3 linked regions of the Homo sapiens genome follow. The protein of the gene in region 1 purifies or fractionates together with the protein of each later gene. This does not show direct contact. Each region holds a gene or a part of one and is shown on either strand. Other genes may lie near its edges.

Region 1 (4,219 bases):
CTGCATTCTTATTTGTGTCTCTTGAATTTTGAACTATGTGACTAGTTTATTACCGGTTCAAAAACAAAATTAAAAGTGTAAATTTAAAAAAATTCAAATTAAGTAATAATTGTTTAAAAAACTGGTAGTGTCCAGGGCTGCCTCCAGAAGCTGGTGTGTAGCCTCTGACAGTCCATTCCCATTTCATTTGTGAGGAAAGAGAGGTCCAAAGAACTGAAGGCCATAGGCCACGTAAATGGCCAAGCCTGGGTTTGCAGCTCCTGCCTGGGTCCCACCTCTGCTCATCACACCCTACAAGGAGCCAGCCACTTTCAATCTATGGTAGCGCCTAAGATAAATGGAAGAGCCTAGGCTGCCAGCAACTATTGCCTACATGGCCTTGGGCAAGTTACCACATTTCTGTGCCTCAATTTCCCCAAATGTAAACCCAGAGAAGCTGTTTTTATGATAGTTATGCAACTGCAACTGGCTGGCAATGCCTGGCCTATAAGCAGCTGTTGAACAAATGTCAGCATCTCCCTGGCATCCTGGGCCTGTCGCATGGCTGGCTGGCTGGCTGCTGAATTTGGCTGTAAGGTAGCATGCCTGCTTCTTTGCTCTACATAGCACCTAGGATGTGGCAGCAGCTTGATAAATGAGAAATGTCTCCAAAATGCTGAGGATGGGACACTTCAGAGTCCCTTCTGCAGTAGCCTCTTCCCCACCCAATAAACTAATAAATAAATGCATCTTGGTTTCTATAGGAGGCTAAGCCTAACTCAAAGCATCGTACCAAGAAGACTGGGGCCTTTATTCCCTGGTGGGATGGGAACACCTCCTCACATGGGTGCAGAACCTTATCCACTATTTCAGGAGAACCTCAGAGCATCCCTTGGAATTAGGCAGGGCAGAAAACATTGCCCCCTTTTTTCAGATGGAAAAACTGAGGTCTGGAAGGCACTTGCTATGTCCCACAAATAGAAAGAACTCCCAATAGCTAAACTTAAGTCCAGTGATCACAAATGCCAAGGTCTGTGCCTAACAGAGGTCACACTTGAGGCTGACAACAGCCTAATATATTAGGTACTACTCTAAGACCCATTTCACAGAGGGGTCTGAGGCTCAGAAAGGTTGAGTAACTTGCCCAGGGTCACATAACTAGTAGATGACAAGAGTGAAGTTACACAGCCAAGCAGACTGGGGCCCATGCTGGACTCCTCAGCACACCGGGGAGGACTGGCTGGGAATGGGAATCTGTGTCTGCTGGTTCCAAGTACAGGCATCCTTCCTGCAAGCCTTGAAGCCAGTGAGTCGGGAGGGGCCCAGGCACACTGCAGGCACCCTTGTCAATGTTTGCTGAATGAACGGACTCTGCACGACCAGGACATTCTCCCCTGCTGGGGTAGCATGTACCCTGGAGCCAGCAGGTGGGGGGCCACTGGATGCCCAAGTGCAATGCATCCAGCCAGCAAGTCTATTTTAAACTCCCCTGGTTAGCAGAGCCCCTCCCCAGCCTGGATTCGCATGGAGGCCAGCATTAACAAGCTCACTGTCTGGAAGCTCACTGTGTGGAAAATCGCTTTTTCCACATGCACCCACTCATAGAGGAAAAGCCATGTGAAGGCACAGCAAGAAGGAGGCTGTCTGCAAGCCAGGAAGAGAGCCCTCATCAGAAACCAAATCAACCAGCACCTTGATCTTGCCCTTCCCAGCCTCCAGATCCATGAGAAACAAATTTTGTTTAAGCCACCCAGTCTATGCTATTTTGTCTGGCACAAAATGGTACAAATGTAACAAGCTCACTTGTTACATTTTAAAAATTAGTGTTTAAAATGTAAAAAATAATCATGACCCACCCACATAGAACAAGAGAGAACCGGCAAGTGGTTCTTTCCAGAGGCTCCAGCTACCTGTGGGGGCGGCTAGAAGGTCCACCAGCCCTGTCACTCAGGACCACACCTGGCTAGGGCCCCCTTCTCAGTTCCTAGCGTCTATTTGTCAAGGCTTGACTGAGCTTCTGAAGAAGGAGCCAGGAATTTTCTCTAACCAGGGTCACAGGCCAGGGCACTGGAGTGAGCAAAGTCTTATTAGTCTTTATAAAAGCTAGCTGCTGGCTTCTGGATTAAAAAATAAAGAGAAAGGCAGGCAAGGAAGTGCCCAACCTTCCCCAAAACAAGCTGGCTGTGGCCTGGAACGTGCTCCTGGGTCACCTGCGGGAGCCCGGCCATGCACAGACAGACAGCCCCACACAAGGAGGCAGGCACTGCTGGGGCCGCGGCAAAACCTCATCTGGGCTGGGAAGCCTGGGTGCTGGTTCCAAGGAGGTTCCTGACTCTGGCTAGGTGGCTCGCCCCTCTGTGCCTCGATCTCCTGGGCTGTGAACCGGGGTGGGGAGCTGGTAGGGCTAACCTGTGGGAAGGCACTGGGAAGCGCAGGGCACCGCCTACTGGCCGCGGCAGAACCGGCTTTGCGGTGTAAACAGCCCCAGCCTCAGGCCCCGCAGCTGGGACCGAGAGAATCAGCCACCGTCTGGATACTTCGGGCCGACGGGTCCATACCAGGCCCCCACCATACAGGCGGTGAGGTCCAGTCTCAGGGAGGAGGAGGGGAGAGGATTTGGGGAAGAGAAGATAGAGACCCAGAAAGAGGGGTGGCAGAGAGCAAGGAGAGAGAGGAGGGACGGTGGGGAAGGGACCACGGATGGGGTAGGGTCCTGCGGCTCCCCTGGCAGCCCGCAGCCGCCCCCAGGGCCCGGGAGGGAGGTCGCTGAGCGCGAGTCTGGGGGCGGCCGGGACCGTAGCCGGAAGAGCCCGAGCCGGCCCGCACTTACTGTCGCCGCTGCGCCACGCCGCCGCTGCCTCCGGCGCACGGCCAGGACCACTGGGCTTGGCAGGCGGCAGGCGGGCTCCTCCCCCGGCCCCGCCCCGCCCCTCGCGGCAGCACGCCGCCGCTTCCCCGTTTGCAAACACGCTTTTTTCCTTTGTCTTCTGCCGGCGCGCCGGGGCTCCCCCTTCTGGCGCTGAGCTGGGGCCTGCGTGCGCCCATTTTATAGGAGAAAAAGTGAGTCACCCAGTCTTAAACGCACTGCCCATGCTTGCGATGGGTGCGCTGCGCATCAGGCCTTTTGGTTGCTGCTCCTTCTTTACCTTGGAGCCAGACCCCACTGTCTCAGACCTCCCCTTTAGCTACTATAACCTGCACCCCAGGACTCAAAGGAGCCCTCATCTTGTCCCCAGGCCGCTGCAGAGACCCCTCTCCAAAGGCCGCTTCTACCCTTACCGGCTGCCGCTGCTCTGGAGGTGAAGCGGGACCCACACCCGGACTGAACTGGGCCTCCCAGGCCAGGCAGCTATTTTCAGTAGACCCAGAACATGGCAGTCAGCAATTCCAGCCCTCACACTTGACCTCAGCCATAGCGTGTAACACACAGCTGCCGCGTGTTCTTTAAGAAAGCAGGGGCCGGGCGCGGTGGCTCACGCCTGTAATCCCAGCACTTTGGGAGGCCGAAGCAGGCGGATCACCTGAGGTCGGGAGTTTGAGACCAGCCTGGCCAACATGGCGAAACCTCGTCTCTACTGAAAATACAAAAGTAGCCGGGCATGGTGGTGCGTGCCAGTGATCCCAGCTATGTGGGAGGCTGAGGCAGGAGAATCGCTTGAACCCGGGAGGCGGAGATTTCAGTGAACCGAGATGGTGCCACTGCACTCCAGCCTGGAGCCTGGGCGACAGAGCAAGACTCCATCTCAAAAAAAAAAAAAAAAAAAAAAAGGCGGAAACCTTCCTGACTCCCGGTCCTGGCCCAGTTGGCCTATTCAGAGCGGGGATCTGGATGCTTCACAGGGCCTGAAGATCTGTGACCATGGATAGTAAATTCTTGCAGTTGCCATCCCAGGGCTCAGGGGTGCCACAGAACCCATTGAGGCTGTCAGTGTGTGGACAGGTTCTCAGAACATCCCCACTCCCTGCCCCAGCCTCTCATTTTATAACCACCATTCCCCAAACACTGGCCTGATCATAAAAGTCTCGAGTACACATCCAGATTCTGGGGACCTCTCCCCAGGAGGGTTGCTGCCACTCCCCAATCCCTGAGGGTGGTGCTGTATCTGCTTTGTTTGCTCTTCCCTCATCGTGGGCACATAATTTGTGTTCAATAAATACCTGGATTAATACAACCCATCACTCAGGGGGTGCAGAATGGGGATCCAGAATGGATCTATTTAACAAGCTCCACCAGCAGGCG
Region 2 (4,438 bases), on another chromosome or scaffold:
ATAATCCCACCACCCTTTGCTGACTCCTTTTTCGGACTCAGCCCACATGCACCCAGGTGAAATAAACAGCCTTGTTGCTCACACAAAGCCTGTTGGTGGACTCTCTTCACACGGACCCATGTGACAGGGGCTGGGCACAGTGGCTCCTGGCTGTATTCCCAGCACTTTGGGAGGCCGAGGCGGGTGGCTCAATTGAGGTCAAGAATTCAAGACCAGCCTGATCAACATGGTAAAACCCCGTCTCTACTAAAAATACAAAAAAAAAAAAAAATTAGCCAGGCATGCTGGTGGACGCCTGTAATCCCAGCTACTTGGGAGACTGAGGCAGGAGAATCGCTTGAACCCAAGAGGCGGAGGTTGCAGTGAGCTGAGATTGTGCCACTGCACTCCAGCCTGGGCGAGAGAGTGAGACTCCGCCTCAAAAACAAACAAACAAAAAAAGTAGGGACACACTTATTACACACCTGTGTCTAGTCCTACGCTTTTCATGAACTTAGACCTGGATTCAATAACACTTGGACCCTATAATGTTTTGGGAACTTCAGCACACATCTCATTGGACCCTTACCAGAACCTAATCACACCGTAGTGCTGATTCTAAGTGTTACAGATTCTTCTGTGAAAGGGGATGACTGAGAAGTAATACATTATCTTGTCAGTGCTTGTCTTGCTTAATTGGTTACTGAACTGATCCCAAATGGCCAGATTGCAGTGAAACCAAATGGCTGAGATTGCGGGGTCCAGCTAGCTTTTCCTCTCTCATGACTCCAGGCTGCCCTGCTAATCTGACCCACTGTACTAAAGAGGTGTGGGTCACAGGCGAGACAAAGCAGGAAGACAGACAAGAGTGTAAAGCAAAGGGCCTTCTCTCTTGACAATTGCAAAGCAGATAAAGTGAGCCCAAAAACCCCTGCAAGGTCATTGTGAACATGATTGTGGTAGTTCTACAACAAAGGCTAAATAGAACGCATTATTGTGTTCACGCAAAAAAAAAAATTACTCCATAGAGCAAATTATCCCCCCACAAAGCAACATGGAAAAGGTATTTGTAAGAAATGCATGAATTAAGCAATTGCTCTGAAGACTTAAATGCCAATTTAAATAATCCAAACAGATTGCATTCAGCTAATGGCAGATTATAATAAACATGCATTAAAGTGTTTTTCAAATACTTTAATATATTTGTGAATGTCATAACATCTATCAACTAGTCATTATTGTTAGCAAAACTTCTTTACCCTTTTATTTACCATGTCCAGTTTGTGAGCTTCCAACTTGGGGGACTTGCAAAACATTTATTAAATAATGTATAAAGGACACACCATTAAAATTCCTACGCTTATGCCTTGAAGATTAAACTCACATTTCTAGCTCATTAATAGATGACAGCTATAGTTAATCCTGGAAACATGGAGTCTCTAGAACACATACAAGAAAAAGTTTGGGATTTGATACATGAGAGCTGAGACTAAAATTCTTTGATCGGTCACATATATGGGCCTAACAATTTTTCCTTGAAATAGGAAACTTTAAGTAGGTCAGTTTAATGACTGCTACCATGGAGTTTATAAATCCACACTCAACTATCCTTTCGATGAACTGCTGCCCAGAATGGAGTTATAGCCCTGCACTATTAAAATGTCTTTGGTTCAAGCAGAGAAAGATGCAGAAACTGATCCTGCCATTTAGGCTTTGTTATTGTTTTAGATCCAATAACTGTTTGGTTTTGTTTTTCAACATGGCATTGGTATATCTGGTTCCCCAACAGGACCTCGCATGTAGGACATCGGAGTGGGTTCACTCGGGAAGATGGACTTCCATTCTACCTGAGCTATGTTCCCACATGCGGTCACAATCCTGGCCCAACCGTGAAAGGCGGTCTGGCCGGAATAAACCTGACCAAAAAGATCAGTGAAATGTGTGGGACATCATAAAGTGCTGTGGGGGTAGGGGTGGAGGAAAGGAATGAGTAGAGAAAAAAGGAGCATGAATTTAAAATGGGAAAACCCTCTCATACTCCATTTGATTCATTTAAGGAGGGGAAAACCACTCAAGGACTCTCTCCAGAACCCAAAGCTAATCACTTTTTTATTGCAGCAGATTACCAAAGAGCCTAGGTAACCCACCTACCACGGCCTCCCGCCGAAAAACCAAAAATCCCATTTCTTCCCAAGTGTGCGCCCAGGAAAGGAAGGAAGACTGTGCATTTAGAGTGGAGGGCGGTACACAGGGCAAAGCAAGTTAGTGCCTCCTTCCCAGATCCCCTGCTTCCCGAGCCAGCCTGACCTGGCTAACCGCAAAGTGCAGGGAGAATGGCACAGGGACCGGGAGGTCAAACTTGGGGTCGCTTCTCACCCGAGTCCACCCGATAACGAGATGATGGGGCGGCGGGTGGGGACACCTGTCAAAGGACGGGGCCGGGGCCGGGGCCGGGGCCGCAGCGGGCGGGCTGGCTGGCGGCACTGCGGCGGCGGGGACCGAGGCGCGCCGGCTCGGGCGTTCGCAGGTCGCGGGGCAGAGCCGGCACCGACTCCTGGACTTGCCGGGGAGCGTGCGCCCGCGGAGGGCTCGGGCGGGCGGCCCCGCGCCCGGGACGCTATGGGAGGGGGCCGCAGCCGAGCAGGGCCCCGCAGCCGGGCGGACCCAGCCGCCCCAGCCGCGCTGCAGCCCCCGCCGTCCCCGGTCTCCGCCTGCGGGCTGCGCACGGGGCCGGGCCGGACGCCCCCTGGCTGCGCGACGGGCCCAGGCAGGGGAGGGGGCGCCGCGCCTACCTGCTCTGGTGCGGCGGGGCCGCTGTCGCCTCGAGGGGCTGTGACCTGCTGCGGTGGCGGCGGCGGCAGCAGTAGCGGCGGGTAGGGCGCTTCCTTCAGGAAGGGGTGGGATCTGCTCACCCGCCCGCCCGGCCCCCTCCTGCCGCGCCGGGGCCCGCCCCCGACTTATTCTGGGGTCCCCGCTGCTAGGCCTTCGGGGAGAGTTGATCCCCTGGGTCTCGGGCTTCTGCCACCCCCCCGGGGCCCCTAATAGTCACCCGGGGCAGGAGCCGGGTGTGGGCGGGCGAGCCGCTTCCTTCCGAAGCCTTTGTGGACGCGTTTGCCTGGCGCTCCTCATCCAACAAAAGGAAGGACAGAATCTTGGATCCTCCGCCTGGTGGTTATTTATTCCTGACCTGTTGTAACCTTCTGCCTGGCTCTCTTTCGTCCGCACACCTAGGGTTTTTGCACAAAGCAGCTAAAATTCATTTTCATGCCCATTGACTGAATGTAGTTCTCCTCCACTCAGCGCTGTCCCGCGGTTTTTGGTTTTTTTTTTTCCATCCTATTGAACAAACACAGAGCCAACTTCGGACCCTGGCAATGAACAGCAGACACCAAGGCCGACCTCCCAGCGCCAGCTTGCAGCTTTCCTCCCTGGGTCTCGTCTGAGTCCGTCATAAACTGTGTTCATCAGCGTTTTGACAGCTTCCCCCATCCCGGACCCCCAACCTACCATGGGACCCCATGGCACCATGTCAGTGACCTCTAGCAGCAGCATGGATCAATGCCATTTTTATCTTAGGCTCATCATGAGCCTGGGTTCCAAACACAACCTCTCTGGCCTCCAACAGGTGGCTCTCTATCAACCGGCCTTTGTCAGTCTGCCCTCTATTCTTTTGGGGGCTTCCGTAGCACACCTGTCTCCTTTAAACTGCTGTCTCTACACAAGCAGGCATTCCCTTTTTTTCTTTTTCTTTTTCTTTTTCTTTTTCTTTTCTTTTCTTTTCTTTCTTTTTTTTTTTTTTTTTGAGACGGAGTCTTGCTCTGTCGCTCAGGCTGGAGTGCAGTGCCGCAATGTCGGCTCACTGTAACCTCTGCCTCTCGGGTTCAAGCGATTCTCTCGCCTCAGCCTCCTGAGTAGCTGGGATTACAGGCGCCCGCCACCATGCCCGATTAATTTTTGTATTTTCAGTAGAGGCGGGGTTTCACCACGTTGGCCAGGCTGGTCTCAAAACTCCTGGCCTCAAGTGATCCGCCTGCCTCAGCCTCCCAAACTGCTGGGATTACAGGCGTGAACCACCGCGCCCGGCCCAACCAGGTGTTTCTAAGAATCTTCTCCAATTCAGCATATTCAAATTCTGCAATTAACGTTCGGTTCCAGAACTCTCCCTTCCCCACAATTCTTGTGATTATTGTCTACTATGTGTATATTGATTCTTTTTTTTTTTCTGTATGTTGATTTCTTGTTACTGTTTTCTCCTGGCTACTAGACTGTAAGCTTCCTGAGACCAGGGATCTTGCCTTCTCTTGTTTTCCTTATTTTAATGAGTGGGACTGTTATCCATTCAATTAAAATAGCAAAAGCAAAAACTGAATCTTAGTCTAGACTCCCTTGAAAGTATATGCTCAATTTTGTGGGAATTAGCTTATGTGTACTTTTCTGAGGAGAGTAACTACACATTAAT
Region 3 (3,640 bases), on another chromosome or scaffold:
GCAAAAACCCCAAATAAACTGCTGAAGTACACAGACGAGCTGCTCTTCTGTTATCAGCCTGACTGCGTACCAGCTCTGTGTGAGGCGTCTGGTGAATTCCCGACCCACAAATAGTCTCATAGTCTCATTTTTTTTTTTTTTTTTTTGAGACGGAGTCTCACTCTATCGCCCAGGCTGGAGTGCAGTGGCGCGATCTCAGCTTACTGCAACTTCCACCTCTCGGGTTCAAGTGATTCTCCTGTCTCAGTTTCCCGAGTAGCTGGGATTACAGGAACCCGCCACCACACCCAACTCATTTTTGTATTTTTAGTAGATACAGGGTTTCACCATGTTAGCTAGGCTGGTCTCGAACTCCTGACCTCAAGTGATCCGCCCGCCTTGGCCTCCCAAAGTGCTGGGATTAAAGGCATGAGCCATCGCACCCGGCCAATTTTTGTATTTTTTAGTATAGAAGGGGTTTCACCATGTTGGCCAGGCTGGTCTTGAATTCCTGACCTCAGGTGATCCGCCCACCTTGGCCTCCCAAAGTGTTGAGACTATAGGCACGTGCCACCGTGCCCAGCCCTAGTCTCATTCTTGACCTGCTGATTCCTATCTGCTAATCCCACTAGAGCAAGTTCCTTTAAGGCTGATACCAGGTCTTACTCCTCTATTTATCTCAACTTTATTAATTTGGTAATGTTAAGTCTTAGCACATTTAGAGAATTGGCTTTTAAGTGGCACATATCCATATACTAACCCATGCCATATGCTAAACTAATCTACACGTGATAGGCAACACTCATACTATGTGCTCTGATGGCTGCTATGCTGACCTCTTTCACCAATGGCTGCCACTTGTCACACTGTGTCTCCTCATGAGGGAGGAGGTGTCCTATCTGCAGTCATTATTTATACATGGCTTGAAGATTTGCAAGATCGTAATTTTTTAAAAATACCACTTCATTCTGATTATGAAAGCAAAATCTACTCATTGTAGAAAATATGAAAAACTCTAGTGTACAAAAAGGATATTAAAAACTACCTGTGATTTAACCTACTGTCATTTCTGTTGTCTTTTGGGGTATGTGTGTTGTATATGTACTTGGAGGATTTTTATAGTTCAACTCATACTGTCTATATGGTAGTACCCATTATTTTCTCCACCTAATTTTATTATATAAGAATTTTTCGCTGGGTGCAGTGGCTCACGCCTGTAATCCCGGCACTTTGGGATGCTAAGGCAGGCGTATCACAAGGTCAGGAGATTGAGACCATCCTGGCTAACACGGTGAAACCCCGTCTCTACTAAAAATACAAAAAATTAGCCGGGCGTGGTGGCGGGCGCCTGTAGTCCCAGCTACTCAGGAGGCTGAGGCAGGAGAATGGCGTGAACCCGGAAGGCGGAGCTTGCAGTGAGCCAAGATAGCGCCACTGCACTCCGGCCTGGGTGAAAGAGCGAGACTCCGTCTCAAAAAAAAAAAAAAAAAAAAGATTACTTTGTGAAAAAGAGCCCTGAAAATAAAGCTTAAAAAAAAAAAAAAAGAATTTTTCCATTTATCAGTAAAAAATTAACAGAAAATAGCAGATTAATGGCTGTATTATATTCATTTCATCAATTCTATGATTTTCTTCACATTATAACCTCTCTGAAACTAAAATGTCTCTTATAATCTATACTCTTTCAATTATTTCAGCCAAATGACATTCCAATGCAGTCGTGTGTTAATCACCCACTGCCCCTACTGGTAAAATGGAGTAAGTGCCAGCATTAAAGCAATTCAGCTTTGATGAACGATGATATTCCATGTGATGAATATTTCCTTGATGGTTAAACCTCAGGATTGTTCTCTCTGGCCAATGAGAATACTCTGGGGCTATTTTCTGTCACCCTTAGTAAACAGGACATCCGCTTATGGAATATAAGCAACAAATCCAAATTACGCATCTATGGGGTGAACAGTAAGATTCCAAAGCAAGCTATGAATGATTCGGATTACCTGTGCTACTGTTTTGCAACAAAGACATATAAAACCATAGAGCCTGCTGCTAGTTCTGAAGTGCTATACAGAAATGCTGTAAGTAACACTTGATAAGGATGTACTTTCTGTTGTACATAAAAGTAACCCATTCCACTTACCAGGTTGGGATCATAGTAGGATTCCTGAGTTGGTGGAATATTATTTAGCTGCGTGATATCAGCAGGAAGCATTTTTGAGCAATTTATTAGCATGTGTTCCAGACCTGTCAAATCCTAACAAAGAAAAAGATGATAAATCTGTTATGCGCATTGTAAGTAATGACTGTGGTTTTAAAAATAAAAATTAAGTGAAAGCTTCCAAAAATGGTTTAAATGCTATCTTCAAAGAGAGTCTGACTATATGATTCTTAAGATAAAGGCACTCTAAGAAGAGCAGAATGAGACAATGCCAACAAAAATATTTCATCTTCATCTCAAAGAACATTCTGGCCTCTGAGATACCCATTTACACAAGGTGGTCCAGGGCTCAGGAGAAATCATGCCCTGCAGCTAGATTCATCTGGGCACCTCCATTAGTGAGTTTCCTACTCCTGGGACTAGAGGATGCCATGAAGGAGGGGCTAGCTGAGATCTCCAGCTAGCCACACCTGAAGTCCTAGAATGAATATACCACAAGAATCTCATATGCAGGTATGGTCTGGCTCTTTTCCAGACAATACAAGATCAATCCCTACTGAAAACCTGCAAAAAGTAATTTCATAAAATACAAACCCCAAATTTGGTTATAATTCTAGCACTAAAACAGACTAGCTATGAATACCCACAGTAAATATTAAGAATTATTTTTACTTGCAATAAATTAAAATACGTAGGGGAAAAAGAGACATGGTCAGAATTAAAATTTTCTTTTCTTTTTTTTTTTTTTTTGAGACAGAGTCTCACTCTGTTGCCCAGGCTGGAGTGCAGTGGCGCAATCTTGGCTCACTGCAACCTCCACCTCCCAGGGTGAAGCGTTTCTCCTGTCTCAGCCTCCCAAGTAGCTGGAATGACAGGCGCATGCCACCACATCCGGCTAATTTTTTGTATTTTTAGTAGAGACGGGGTTTCACCGTGTTGCCCAGGTTGGTCTCGAACTCCTGAGCTCAGCTGCCTCAGCATCCCAAAGTGCTGGGATTACAGGTGTGAGCCACTGCGCCTGACCAGAATTAAATTCTCATTTAAAACATCAAAAAGTTTAGAATAAGACAATACAACACCTGCAAACTTAACGGCAGTTCGTGAATTCTGGTAGCCAGTGTTCGGATTTCTCTGTCAGACAAGACACCAGATTGATCTGTATCAACTTCATCAAAGACTTGAGATATATTCAGTGGCTGCACTGCACTCATGAGATAATAAAAATAAGAGAAGGCAAACTGCATATCCTCAGAATGGCGCACTTTGTGAAATGACGTCTTGTCAAATTCTTCAGGGAACCTGTCCAAATATAACATATTACAAACTCTGGATATTCAAAGTATGTACCGTATCTAACATTTGCAGAGATGGACTTTTTTCTTTCTCACTTAGATAATACCTTTAACATATTAGTCATCAAATATTAGAGCTATAAATTTAGCATGGTAAATATGCACATTTCAAGTAGCCTTAGTTCTGAACACAAGCAAACAACTCAAACAC

The links.
Region 2: the proteins of SLC29A3 (region 1) and TMEM150C fractionate together in Homo sapiens (co-fractionation; one large-scale study listed by BioGRID). This does not show direct contact.
Region 3: the proteins of SLC29A3 (region 1) and GNPTAB purify together in Homo sapiens (affinity purification with mass spectrometry; one large-scale study listed by BioGRID and IntAct). This does not show direct contact.

What each region holds. Positions count from the first base shown.
Region 1 is NC_000010.11:71,317,901-71,322,119, reverse strand, and holds the start of SLC29A3 (equilibrative nucleoside transporter 3), read right to left. Parts: upstream 2,862-4,219; 5' UTR 2,811-2,861; coding exon 2,810-2,810; exon of another isoform or gene 2,389-2,809; intron 1-2,388. UniProt on the Homo sapiens protein: Uniporter that mediates the facilitative transport of nucleoside across lysosomal and mitochondrial membranes. Functions as a non-electrogenic Na(+)-independent transporter.
Region 2 is NC_000004.12:82,559,135-82,563,572, forward strand, and holds the start of TMEM150C (transmembrane protein 150C), read right to left. Parts: upstream 2,855-4,438; 5' UTR 2,772-2,854; intron 1-2,771. UniProt on the Homo sapiens protein: Nonselective cationic channel with high permeability to Ca(2+). Component of a mechanosensitive cation channel, confers mechanically activated (MA) currents with slow inactivation kinetics. May contribute to proprioception.
Region 3 is NC_000012.12:101,757,911-101,761,550, forward strand, and holds part of GNPTAB (N-acetylglucosamine-1-phosphotransferase subunits alpha/beta precursor), read right to left. Parts: intron 3,437-3,640; coding exon 3,217-3,436; intron 2,234-3,216; coding exon 2,120-2,233; intron 1-2,119. UniProt on the Homo sapiens protein: Catalyzes the formation of mannose 6-phosphate (M6P) markers on high mannose type oligosaccharides in the Golgi apparatus.